Homo sapiens: one gene and its partners. The protein of the gene in region 1 interacts with the protein of each later gene in a biochemical or structural test. Each region holds a gene or a part of one and is shown in the gene's direction. Other genes may lie near its edges.

Region 1 (3,748 bases):
CTTTTGCACTGCTGGTGGGAATGTAAACTAGCACAACCACTATGGAAAACAATATGGATGTTCCTTAAAGAACTAAAAGTAAATCTGCCATTAGATCCAGCAATCCCACTAGCGGGTATCTACAGAGAGGAAAATAAGTCATTATATGAAAAATACACTTCCACACGCATGTTTGTAGCAGCACAGTTCACAATTGCAAACATATAGAACCATCTCAAATGCCCATCAATGCACGAGTGGATAAAGAAAATGTGGTATATATATATAACATGGAATACTACTCAGCCATAAAAAGGAATGAAATAATGGCATTTGCAGCAACATGGATGGAGCTAGAGACCATTATTCTAAATGAAGTAACTCAGGAATGGAAAACCAAATATCATATGCTCTCACTTTTAGGTGGGAGCTAAGCTATGAGGACGCAAAGGCATAAGAATGACACAATGGACTTTGGGAACTCAGGGGGAAAGGTGGGAGGGGTGAGGGATAAAAGACTACACTTTGGGTTGGCTGGGCGCAGTGGCTCACGCCTGCAATCCCAGCACTTTGGGAGGCCGAGGCGGGCGGATCACGAGGTCAGGACATCCAGACCATCCTGGCTAACACGGTGAAACCCCGTCTCTACTAAAAATACAAAAAATTAGCCGGGCATGGTGGCGGGCGCCTGTAGTCCCAGCTACTCGGGAGGCTGAGTCAGGAGAATGGCGTGAACCTGGGAGGCGGAACTTGCAGTGAGCCCAGATGGCGCCACTGCACTCCAGCCTGGGCAACAGAGCAAGACTCCATCTCAAAAAAAAAAAAAAAAAAAAAAAAAGACTACACCTTGGGTAGAATGTACACTGTTCAGGTCATGGGTCCCCCAAAATCACAGAAATCATCACTAAAGAACTTATCCATGTAACCAAACACCATGTGTTCCCCAAAAACTACTGAAATAAAAATTAAAAATATAGTTAAAAAGAACGGGTGAAGTTAGCCAGTTGTGGGTGCACATGCCTGTAGTCTCAGCTACTGGGGAGGTTGAAATGGGATGCTTAAGCCTAGGGGTTTCAGTCCAGCCGGGCAACATAGCGAGACCCCATCTAAAAAAAAAAAAAAGAAAGAAAAGAAAGACGGCCGGGCACGGCGGCTCACGCCTGTAATCCCAGCACTTTGGGAGGCTGAGGCAGGTGGATCACGAGGTCAGAAGATCGAGACCATCCTGGCTAACATGGTGAAACCCCGTCTCTACTAAAAATACAAAAAATTAGCCAGGTGTTGTGGCGGGCGCCTGTAGTCCCAGCTACTCTGGAGGCTGAGACAGGAGAATGGCGTGAACCCGGGAGGCGGAGCTTGCAGTGAACCGAGACAGCGCCACTGCACTCCAGCCTGGAAGACAGAGTGAGACTCTGTCTCCAAAAAAAAAAAAAAAACCTAAAGACAAGAAGGGGTGAAGTCAACTGCTGGGCTTTTTTGTTTCTCTAGCCATTGTGAAGACAGGAGTGAGTTGCCAGATTGGCATATGTTGCATCCCACTGAAGGCTAGTGGACATGAATCTCTAGGGAACAGTCTCCCCACTGCATACTTTCTTCAGCTGTGCTTGGCTGTTTGGGAGCTAACAAAGAGAAAAGGTGCATTTGGATTCACACAGCGTTGGTATTCTTACCAAATCCATGTGACAAAAAGGCAAGGGGGCAAAAGAGCTTACAGTAGTGGCAAGAGTGTTGTTAAAATTATAGATTATGGAAAATATGCAGGCCTAGAAGTAAACAAAGGAGAAAGCCCTCAGACTGTGAGAAAGTGGAGAAGTCAGTGGCCTAGAGCTACCAAAAAGGTAGAAGAGGGGCCACGGAGGGGCCATGCAAGTCTGCAGACACTTTTGTTTTCAGACACCTTTATTCACGTCCAAGACAATCAGGGAAGGGGATAATGTTCGGTTTAGAAGGTAGAAAAACACAACTGGGATCTGCAGCTTTGAAGCCACAAGTAGATTCATATCTCCGGTCCACCACTTACAAGATATGTGACCATGGACATTGATTTACACTTTTTGAGTCTGTTTTCCCTTTTTTAAAATTAGGAGAATAATACTATCTTATAATTGGTGTGAGGATTTAAAGAGATAATGCATGTAAAGCGCTTAACACAGTGCCTGGCACACAGTAAGAGCTGAACACATGATGTTACTGTTATATTTGGAAGAGAAACCAAGGCAGGGGTACAATGAGGACAACTCTGAGCGCCGAAGTACTGTAAGGTGGAACTTTTGGATAGCTAGGCGCATGCGTCTGTCTATGGGCGCTCTCCTAGCGAGGACGCTGCGCATGCGCCGGAAGTTGCAGCCGGGAAGCCTGCGAGGTCGGTTCCGCCCGACTCTAACATGGCGGCGCCCTTTGTCTGCTCTGGAGTGCCGTCCCCGGCCTTCTCGCGGCCGTGATGCACCTCCCTCTGCGGTGGGGTCCGGGACATGGCAGGTGAGTGTCAACAATCGCCCGGGGCCGGGGAAGTCCCGGGAGCCGGGGCGGAGGCGGCGGAGGATGGGGCGCGGTGGGACGCCGGTGACGGTTGTGTGGGGGAGGGGAGGGAAGTGGAATGGGACGCCAACCGGGGCTGAGGGGACACCGCTGGGCGGGAGATTGTGGGGTGGCGGGGCGGGGGGCGTCGCCGGGCGTGCTGGCGGGGAGTGGGCGGCCAGGCGACCGCCCGGGCGAGGGGGCGCGTGTCACCTCCCGGGCTGGATGACACCCCAGCTGGTAGCATCTCCGCCCCCGCCGCACGGCTGTCACCGCCCCTTGACCCCGCGCGCTGTCGAGGGTGGGCGTTCTGCGGCCGCGAGGGAGCGCAGTGCCGGGGCAGCTCCTGTCGGCCGGCCGGGGCGGGAGGGAGCGGGGCTGCCCGGGCCTAGGAGGAGCTGACAGAGGAGGCCGACGCTGTCCCTGTATAAAAGCATTTCATTCATTCATTCGTACTGCGGACGGTGGTTCAGCACCTGATAGATGGTGAAGCTAGAGCGAGTGATGCGGGCGGACTCGATCCTCCAGGATCCTCGATCCTGGAGTTAGGAGTGTGAACCGTGGAGCCCAGCAGCGGGGTTTGAATCCCCATTCCCTGCTGTGACCTTAGGCACTTTTGGCTTTTTCTCTCTGCCTGGGTTTATTCATCCTTTAAGCAGAGATGATAATAAAATCAGCCTCCTAAGATTGTAATAAAGGGGAAATGAGGCTCCTAGAACACTTATGGGTACAAAGTAAATGCTGTGTGTTTGTTGCTGTTATTAATTGTATCACCATTGTCACCCAGAGCTCAGAGACCCATGTGGGAGACATACAGGTAAATCAGCAATTCTGATACTGCTGCGAGGGCAGAAAGCCCTCCTTCCTCTGAAGCACGGAGTAGAGACACATCACTCAGCCTAGGGGGAATCCCGGGAGGCTTCTGTCCCCCAGAAAGCTAAGATCTAAGGGAAGCTCAGCGGAGTGAGGCAGGAAAACGGGTATTCCCAGTTAAGGGTGTAGTTTGTGAGAAAACTCATCTTCGTAGAGAGAGGAGAGAGAGATCAGGCTAAATAAAGAAGCAGACTGGGCCGGGCTCGTTGTCTCACGCTTGTAATCTCAGCACTTTGGGAGGCCCAGGCGGGCAGATCACTTGAGGTCAGGAGTTCGAGACCAGCCTGGCCAATATGGTGAAACCCCCGTCTCTACTAAAAATACAAAAATTAGCCGGTCGTGCTTGCGCGCGCCTGTAGTCCCAGCTGCTCAGGAGGCT
Region 2 (3,748 bases), on another chromosome or scaffold:
TCTGGGCATTTGCAGGGCTGGGATCCTCTAGGTGCTCTCTAAATGCATCCGCATGCTTGGCATGAGGCGCAGCCAGACTTATGGCTTAGAAGCGGGGCCATATCAGCTGGGTCAGCAGCATTCCAAGTAACTGAAAACCCTTTAATGAAGGGAAGCAAGACAGGCAACTTAATTTAACAGAGAGACAAACCTAATATGAGAGGGCAGTGGCTGCCACAGCTGCTGAAAGCGAGATATATTATTTTGCCATTCTGGAAGCTTTAGCAACTTGGAAATCTGACATCCTGAGCCTGAACATACCTTAGGTTCCACGATAGACTATCCTAGATTTACATGTGCATTTGAATAGTTTGGATAAGATGGCTGTCCAAACTGTTCATTTGGTGAAATTTACTTAGTAGGAAAAACCAGATCTCTTTGGCAAATTAAACGTGACATAATTGTACCCAAACCCTACGTTTCAGATCCCTCTATTCATATCTAGTTTTCCACTCTTACATCCTATTCCAGAGCCCGTTTTCCCTTGTTTTCACTACTCCCAACGTACTATCTTGCAATGTGCGTTTATTACACGAATGAATGAAATGGTTTAAAAAAAAATCCCAATAAGTGATATTAGGAAGAGGCACCAAAGGTTCACAAACTTATTTTTGTGAATTCTGTAAAAAATGTCATCCAGTGTCTTCAGCATTAAAGGACACAGCAGCAGCCCCACTGCCCTTTTATTAATCCGTAGCCAGAATGGGCACTAGGCGGCCGGGATTCGCCATCTCGCCTCTCCTGGGCGCCAGGTGCGCCTCAGATAAGCGCAGCCGGGTAGGAGTTTGAGGACGACAAACTTTCCCGCTTCTGAGGGAGGAGCCCCGGAGAGGACCCGCTGACGTGCGAGGGTGCTGCCTCCGATGTACTACCAAGGAGGGCGAGGGTTCCTATGTCTGTCTGGAGCGCAGAGGGGTGGACTGCAAAAAGGTAGGAGGCAAAGCCAGCTCGAGTTTCCCCGGCCCGTAGCTGGAGGGAACATCTGCCCAAGTGTCGCCTCGCCCGAGAACGCTCACGCCCTCTCCAGGGCCAGGACCCTTCCTCCTCCCCTCGCACTGGCCCTTCGTGGCTTCCAGCACCGCTGAGCACTCGGCGTCCCAGCGAGATTCTCCTGCCCCGACAGACTCCGAGGGGGCGGGGCCCGGCGGGACGGGGCGGGGACAAGCCCTCCCCGGGCCCGCCCGTTGGCATTGTTGCGCGGTGATTGGACGCTTCGGAAGGCCGCCTTCCAGGCCGACCCGGGGAGTGACGGGCGGCCAGCGGCTGCTCCCCGGCGTGTGGGGTGCGGAGTGCGGGGCCCAAGGCTCCAGAGGGGTGGGGACTCCGGGCCGCAGCGCCGCCGAGCGCGATTGCCCGCTGAGATTCGGCGCCCCGGGGTGCGGCAAGCTTGCGGTTTCAGGTGCTGGCTAGGCGTCTTGGTGCGCTCGCTGGAGTGCCGAGAGCATTTGGGAAACTTAACTTCTCGCCCCCACTCCTTGCTCCCGACTTTCGGGTAGAAAAGCAGTTGCCGAGTTGTTTTATTTCCTCCCCCATCGGACTCTGTAAAAATAGCCGTGCGCCGGGGCGGCAGAGCCCATCTCTGCCGCACCGCTGCCCCGGGTCGGCAGAGCCCATCTCTGCCGCACCGCTGCCCCGGGTCGGGTGTGGACCTAAAAATACCCGGCGGTCCCAAGCCTGCGCTGGGGGTGCGGGCGGGTCCGGCCGGGCCGCAGAGGGCGTCAGGAGACCGGAGAAACGGCGGCCGCCTGGCCCCCTCGCCTCTGCCGGGGCTGTCCCTTTAAATCCTGGAGGAGGCAGAGAGAAAAAAGGAAAGAAAGAGAAAAGACGCGGAGCCCCGAGCGGTTGGTGGCGGTGCCCGGCCCCCCCACTCCGCCTCCGCGTCGGGTCCTGACTCCCGCCCGCAGCCTCCGCCAGTCCCGGGCGCCCCCCGCCGCGCCGCCCACTCGCCACAGTTACTGTCAAAATAGAAATTAGCGGAGCCGGGCGGGGGCTGCGGCGCAGCAAGTGCATGTGCCGCGCGGCGGGGAGGGGGCGGGCGCGAGCGACAGGCGACCGCACACATCCGGGCCCTTTAGCCCTGTGCGCCCCCCGAGCCGGCGGCGCGGGCGCGGGGCGCGGGGCGCGGGGCTGACAGCCGCGGCGCGGGAGGCGGGGCGCGGGGAGGGCGGAGGCGCGGCGCGGGGAGGGAGGAGCTGCCCGCTCGCCCGCTGCCGCCGCTCAGCTCCATACCCGCCGGCGCAGCCCCGCCACGAGACTCTGACAGCGGCGCGGCCGGCGAGGCTCGGGCGCGCAGGGACCGGCGGACACCGGCGGCGAAGGAGGACGCCAGGACTGCGTCCCGGAGCCAAGTGCGGGAGGCGCGCAGGGCCGGCGGCGCGCGGAGGTGAGCGGCTTCGCGCGCCGGGCTCGGGCGCCGGCTGCCGGGGTCGCGATCTCCACAGCACCTCGGCAGCCGAGGCAGTTCGGGAGGTCGCGGGGCGGCGGGCGGGTGGCTTTGCTTGGGCTGCGCCGGAAAGCGATTGCGGGGGCCGTTGCTAGGAGGCCGGCGGTCCGCGCGCCTTGGGGCGCCGGCTGGAGCAGGGGCGCCCTCCGCGCGGTGGGCAGGAGGCGGGGGGCTGCGGTGGCTATTCAGGGGCTCCGTGCGGCAGCCATGCAACGGAGGAGGCGGGAGGAGGGAGGGAGGGAAGGAGGGAGGGGAGAGCCAGCGGAGAGCGAGCCAGCGAGCGGGCGCCGCGCCTCCTGGCTGGCACCGCGGCCCGGAGCGAAGTGGCGCGCGGGGCTGGAAAGGAACTTCTGCGGGCGCGTGCGGCCCGGGGCTCGGCGGCGCCTGCGGGCCCGAGCGGGGCGGGCCCGTCGGCAGCCACAGGTGGTTTCTGCCAAAAGTTTTACCGCACTTCTGCCTGGAAGGCGCGGGAGCGTTTTGGTGAGTGACGTTTTCCTGGGACTTTTGCAGTCTCACTTCGCGCTGTCTTTTCTTGAAAATTGGAAAATGAGCTGGAAAGGCTGGGATCCAGCACCTCTCGATGAGATCTGAGCAGAGTACAGTCCTTGCCCGAGGTGTCGCTCATGCAGGACTCAAAGATCCTTGCTGCTGTCAAGTCGGGAAGCTGGGGGAAATGGGCGCACGCACACAGTTCCTCCAAGCCTCGGACAAGTGAAGCCGAGCCTGGCCCGGTGCCTGTCGCCGCGCGGGGTAGTGCGAGGTCTGTTCCCAGCGACACGCACGGGAACTGCGTGCGTCTTCTCTCAAGGTGTGTACGTCTCTTGCTCCGTTGAAAGCGAATTGTCTCTGGCCGCTGTGCTGCTTTGTTTTTCCGGTTGCTTGTCTGGTTTTACTAGGATGAAGGCCAGGAGGAGCCAAAGAAAAGCGAAGCGGCAGCTCCCGTTATCTTTGCAATCTGCAAAGCTGTGGAGGCTGGTACCCAACCTTCCGCGGCGCGGGCGCAAGGCCGAGGGGAGCTGGGGGTGGGTGGCGTGCGCTGCCTGTATGGGAAGTCTCGCTGGACCATGCGCAAGGCTAGAGCCGGAGTTTCTGGTGCTTCTAGGACAGAAAGAGGAGTGGGAGTGGGAAGGGAAGACCCCTTAAAAGAAGATATACTGTGCCCAGACCTGGGAGAGAGGCTCCGAGAAGTCCGGTGGCTTGGCCCTGTTCTTCATTGGCGGGGTTGAGGAATCCAGGGCAGCGAGGTAGAAACACCTCGGTAGGTCG
Region 3 (3,748 bases), on another chromosome or scaffold:
GCTTACTATAAATAAGCATTCAAACTATAATATACATATTACATTATGTTGGTGCATTTAATTATCTCAGCAATCCTATGACTTAGGTAATATTATCTCCATTTTATAGGTGAAGAAAGTAGCCCAATATCACAAGCTAGTAAGTGAAGGAGCTGGAATTTCAACCTGAAAAATAGAGCCAGAGCCTGAGTTTAACGAATAGGGTAACTTGACTTTCTTTCTTTCTTTTTAGTAATTTCTAAGAGAAGAATAACTGTTTTTTAATTTAATTTTTTTAAATTTCAACATTTATTTTCGCTATAGTGGATACATCTGCAGGTTTGTTACATAGATATATTGCACCCAGGTAGTGGGCATAGCACCCAATAGGTAGATTTTCCATCTATGCCCTCCTCCCAACCTTGCCCCTCTAGTAGTCTGCAGTGTCCATTATTCCCGTGTTTATGTCTATGTGTGCTCAATATTTATCTCCCATTTATAGGTGAGAGCATGTGGTATTTGGTTTTCTGTTCCTGCATTAGTTTGCTTAGGATTATGGCCTCCAGCTTCATCTATGTTGCTGCAAAGGACATACATTTTTTACAGCTGCATAGTATTCCATGGTGTATATGTAACACATTTTAAAAAACTGAAATCCACTATTGATGGGCACCTAGGCTGATTACATGTCTTGCTATTGTGAATAGCACAGCAATAAACATGAGTGCATGTATCTTTTTGGTATAATGATTTATTTTTCTTTGGATATATATTCAGTAATGGGATTGCTGTGTTAAATAGTTCTGTCTTAAGTTCTTTGAGAAATCTCCAAACTGCTTTCCATTGTGGCTGAACTAGTTTACATTCCCACCTACAGTGTATAAAAATTCCCTTTTCTCTGCAGCCTTGCCAGCAACTGCTGTTTTTTGACTCTTTAATAGTAGCCATTCTGATGGGTGTGAGATAGTATTTCTCTGACGATTAGTAAGGTTGAGCATTTTTTCATGTTTGTTGTCCACCTGTATGTCTTCTTTTAAGAAGTGTCTGTTCATATCTTTTGCCCACTTTTAATGGGGTTATTTGTTTTTTGTTTGTTGATTTAAGTTTTTCATGCATTCTAGGTATTAGACCTTTGTCAGATGCATGGTTTGTGACTATTTTCTCTGATTCTGTAGATTGTCTGTTTATTCGATAGTTTCTTTTGCTGTGCAGATACTCTTTAGTTTAATTAGGTCTCACTTGTCAATTTTTGTTTTGTTGCAATTGCTTTTGGAATTCTTCACCAAAAATTCTTCACCAGGGTTGATGTTAAGAAGGTTATTTCCTAGGCTTTCTATAATTTGAGTAAAATATTCACAATACTAGTCACTCCATAGTGTTCTGTCTATAGTCAATGAATTGAAATATATGTGCTTATCATTCAGATTTAAAGGCAGATTTGTAACATCCTCTTCTTGATTTGTTTTCCTTCTTTTCCAAATCTCTGCCTGTATTAATCCATTTTCATGCTGCTGATAAAGACATACCTGAGACTGCGCAATTTACAAAAGAAAGAGGTTTAATGCACTCACAGTTCCATGTGGCTGGGGAGGCCTCACAATCATGGCAGAAGGTAAAAGGCATGATTGTCTTTCTTACACAGTGGCAGACAAGAGAAGAGAGCTTCTTATAAAACCATCAGATTTTGTGAGACTTATTCATTATCACAAGAATAGCATAGGAAAGATCTGCCTTCATGATTCAATTACCTCCCATCAGATCCCTCCTACGACACATGGGAATTGTGAGAGCTACAGTTCAAGATGAGATTTGGGTGGGGACACAGCCAAACCATATCATTTTGCCCCTGGCCCCACCCAAATCTCATGTACTCACATTTTAAAACGAATCATGCCTTCCCAACAGTCATCCAAAGTCTTAACTCATTTCAGCACTAACTCTAAAGTCCACAGTCTCATCTGAGACAAGGCAGGTCCCTTCTGCCTATGAGCCTGTAAAATCAAAAGTAAGTTAGTTACTTCCTAGATACAACAGAGGGACAGGCACTGGATAAATAGACCCATTCCAAATCAGAGAAATTGGCCAAAATGAAGGGGCCAAAGGCCCCATACAAGTCTGAAATCCATCAGAGCAGTCAAATCTTAAAGCTCCAAAATGATCTCCTTTGGGTCCTTGTCTCACATGCAGGTCACACTGATGCAAAAGGTGGGTTCCCATGGCCTTGGGCAGCTCCAACCCTGTGGCTTTGCAGGGTATAGCCTCCCTCCCAGCTGCTTTCACAGGCTGGCATTGAGTGTCTATGGCTTTTCCAGGTGCATGGTGAAAGCTGTCGGTGAATCTACCATTCTGGGGTCTGGAGGACGGTGGTTCTCTTCTTACAGCTCCATTAGGCAGCACCCCAGTAGGGACTTTGTGTGGAGGCTCTGACTTGATAGTTCACTTCTGCACTTCCCTAGCAGAGGTTCTCCATGAGTGCACTGCTCTTGTACCAAACTTCTTCCTGGACTTCTAGGCATTTCCATACATCCTCTGAAATCTAGGTGGAGGTTGCCAAACCTCAATTCTTGACTTCTGTGTACCTGCAGGCTCAACCCCACATGGAAGCTGCTAAGGCTTGGGGCTTGCATCTTCTGAAGCCATGACCCAAGCTGTAGCTTGGCCTCTTTTAGTCACAGCTGGAGCAACTGGGACACAAGGCAACAAGTCCCTAGACTGCACACAGCAGAGGGACCCTGGACCTGGCCCATGAAACTATTTTTTCCTCCTAGGTCTCCAGGCCTGTGATGGGAGGAGCTGCCTTGAAGACCTCTGACATGCCCTGGAGACATTTTCCCATTGTCTTGGTGATTAACATTCAGCTCCTCATTACTTATGCAAATTTCTGCAGCCGGCTTGAATTTCTCCTCAGAAAATGGGATTTTCTGTTTTATCGCATTGTCAGGATGCAAATTTTCTGAACTTTTATGCTCTGTCTTCCTTATAAAACTGAATGCCTTAATAGCACCCAAGTAACCTTTTGGATGCTTTGCTGCTTAGAAATTTCTTTCTCCAGATACCCTAAATCATCTCTCTCAAGTTCAAAGTTCCACAAATCTCTAGGGTAGGGCAAAATGCCAACAGCCTCTTTGCTAAAACATAACAAGCGTCACTTTTGCTCTGGTTCCCAACAAGTTCCTTATCTCCATCTGAGACAATCTCAGCCTGGATTTCATGTCTAGATCACTATCAGGTTTTTGGTCAAAGCCATTTAACAAGTCTCTAGGGAGTTCCAAACTTTCCCAAATTTTCCTATCTTCTTCTCAGCCCTCCAAACTGTTCCAACCTCTGCATATTACCCAGTTCCAAAGTTGCTTCTACATGTTCAGGTATCTTTTCAGTGGCACCCCACTCTATTGGTACCAATTTACTGTATTAGTCCGTTTTCACACTGCTGATAAAGACATACCTGAGACTGGGCAATTTACAAAAGAAAGAGGTCTAATGGACTCACAGTTCCATGTGGCTGGGGAGGCCTCAAATCATGGCAGAAGATGAAAGGCATGTCTTACATAGTGGCAGACAAGAGAAGAGAGCTTGTGCAGGGAAACTCCCCCTCATAAAACCATCAGATCTCATGAGACTTATCCATTGTCATGAGAATAGCATGGGAAAGACCCACCTCCATGATTCAATTACCTCCCATTGGGTCTCTCCCACAACACAACATATGGGAATTGTGGGAGGTACAATTCAAGCTAAGATATGGGTGGGGACAGAGCCAAACTGTATC

What was found.
Region 2: the proteins of ZBTB17 (region 1) and ZBTB7C form a complex in vitro, tested with the Homo sapiens proteins (one study listed by BioGRID).
Region 3: the proteins of ZBTB17 (region 1) and TMPRSS11A form a complex in vitro, tested with the Homo sapiens proteins (one study listed by BioGRID).

The regions. Positions count from the first base shown.
Region 1 is NC_000001.11:15,974,692-15,978,439, reverse strand, and holds the start of ZBTB17 (zinc finger and BTB domain-containing protein 17), read left to right. Parts: upstream 1-2,338; 5' UTR 2,339-2,457; intron 2,458-3,748. UniProt on the Homo sapiens protein: Transcription factor that can function as an activator or repressor depending on its binding partners, and by targeting negative regulators of cell cycle progression.
Region 2 is NC_000018.10:48,407,900-48,411,647, reverse strand, and holds the start of ZBTB7C (zinc finger and BTB domain-containing protein 7C), read left to right. Parts: upstream 1-2,264; 5' UTR 2,265-2,422; intron 2,423-2,888; exon of another isoform or gene 2,889-3,290; intron 3,291-3,748. UniProt on the Homo sapiens protein: May be a tumor suppressor gene.
Region 3 is NC_000004.12:67,956,823-67,960,570, reverse strand, and holds part of TMPRSS11A (transmembrane protease serine 11A), read left to right. Parts: intron 1-3,748. UniProt on the Homo sapiens protein: Probable serine protease which may play a role in cellular senescence. Overexpression inhibits cell growth and induce G1 cell cycle arrest.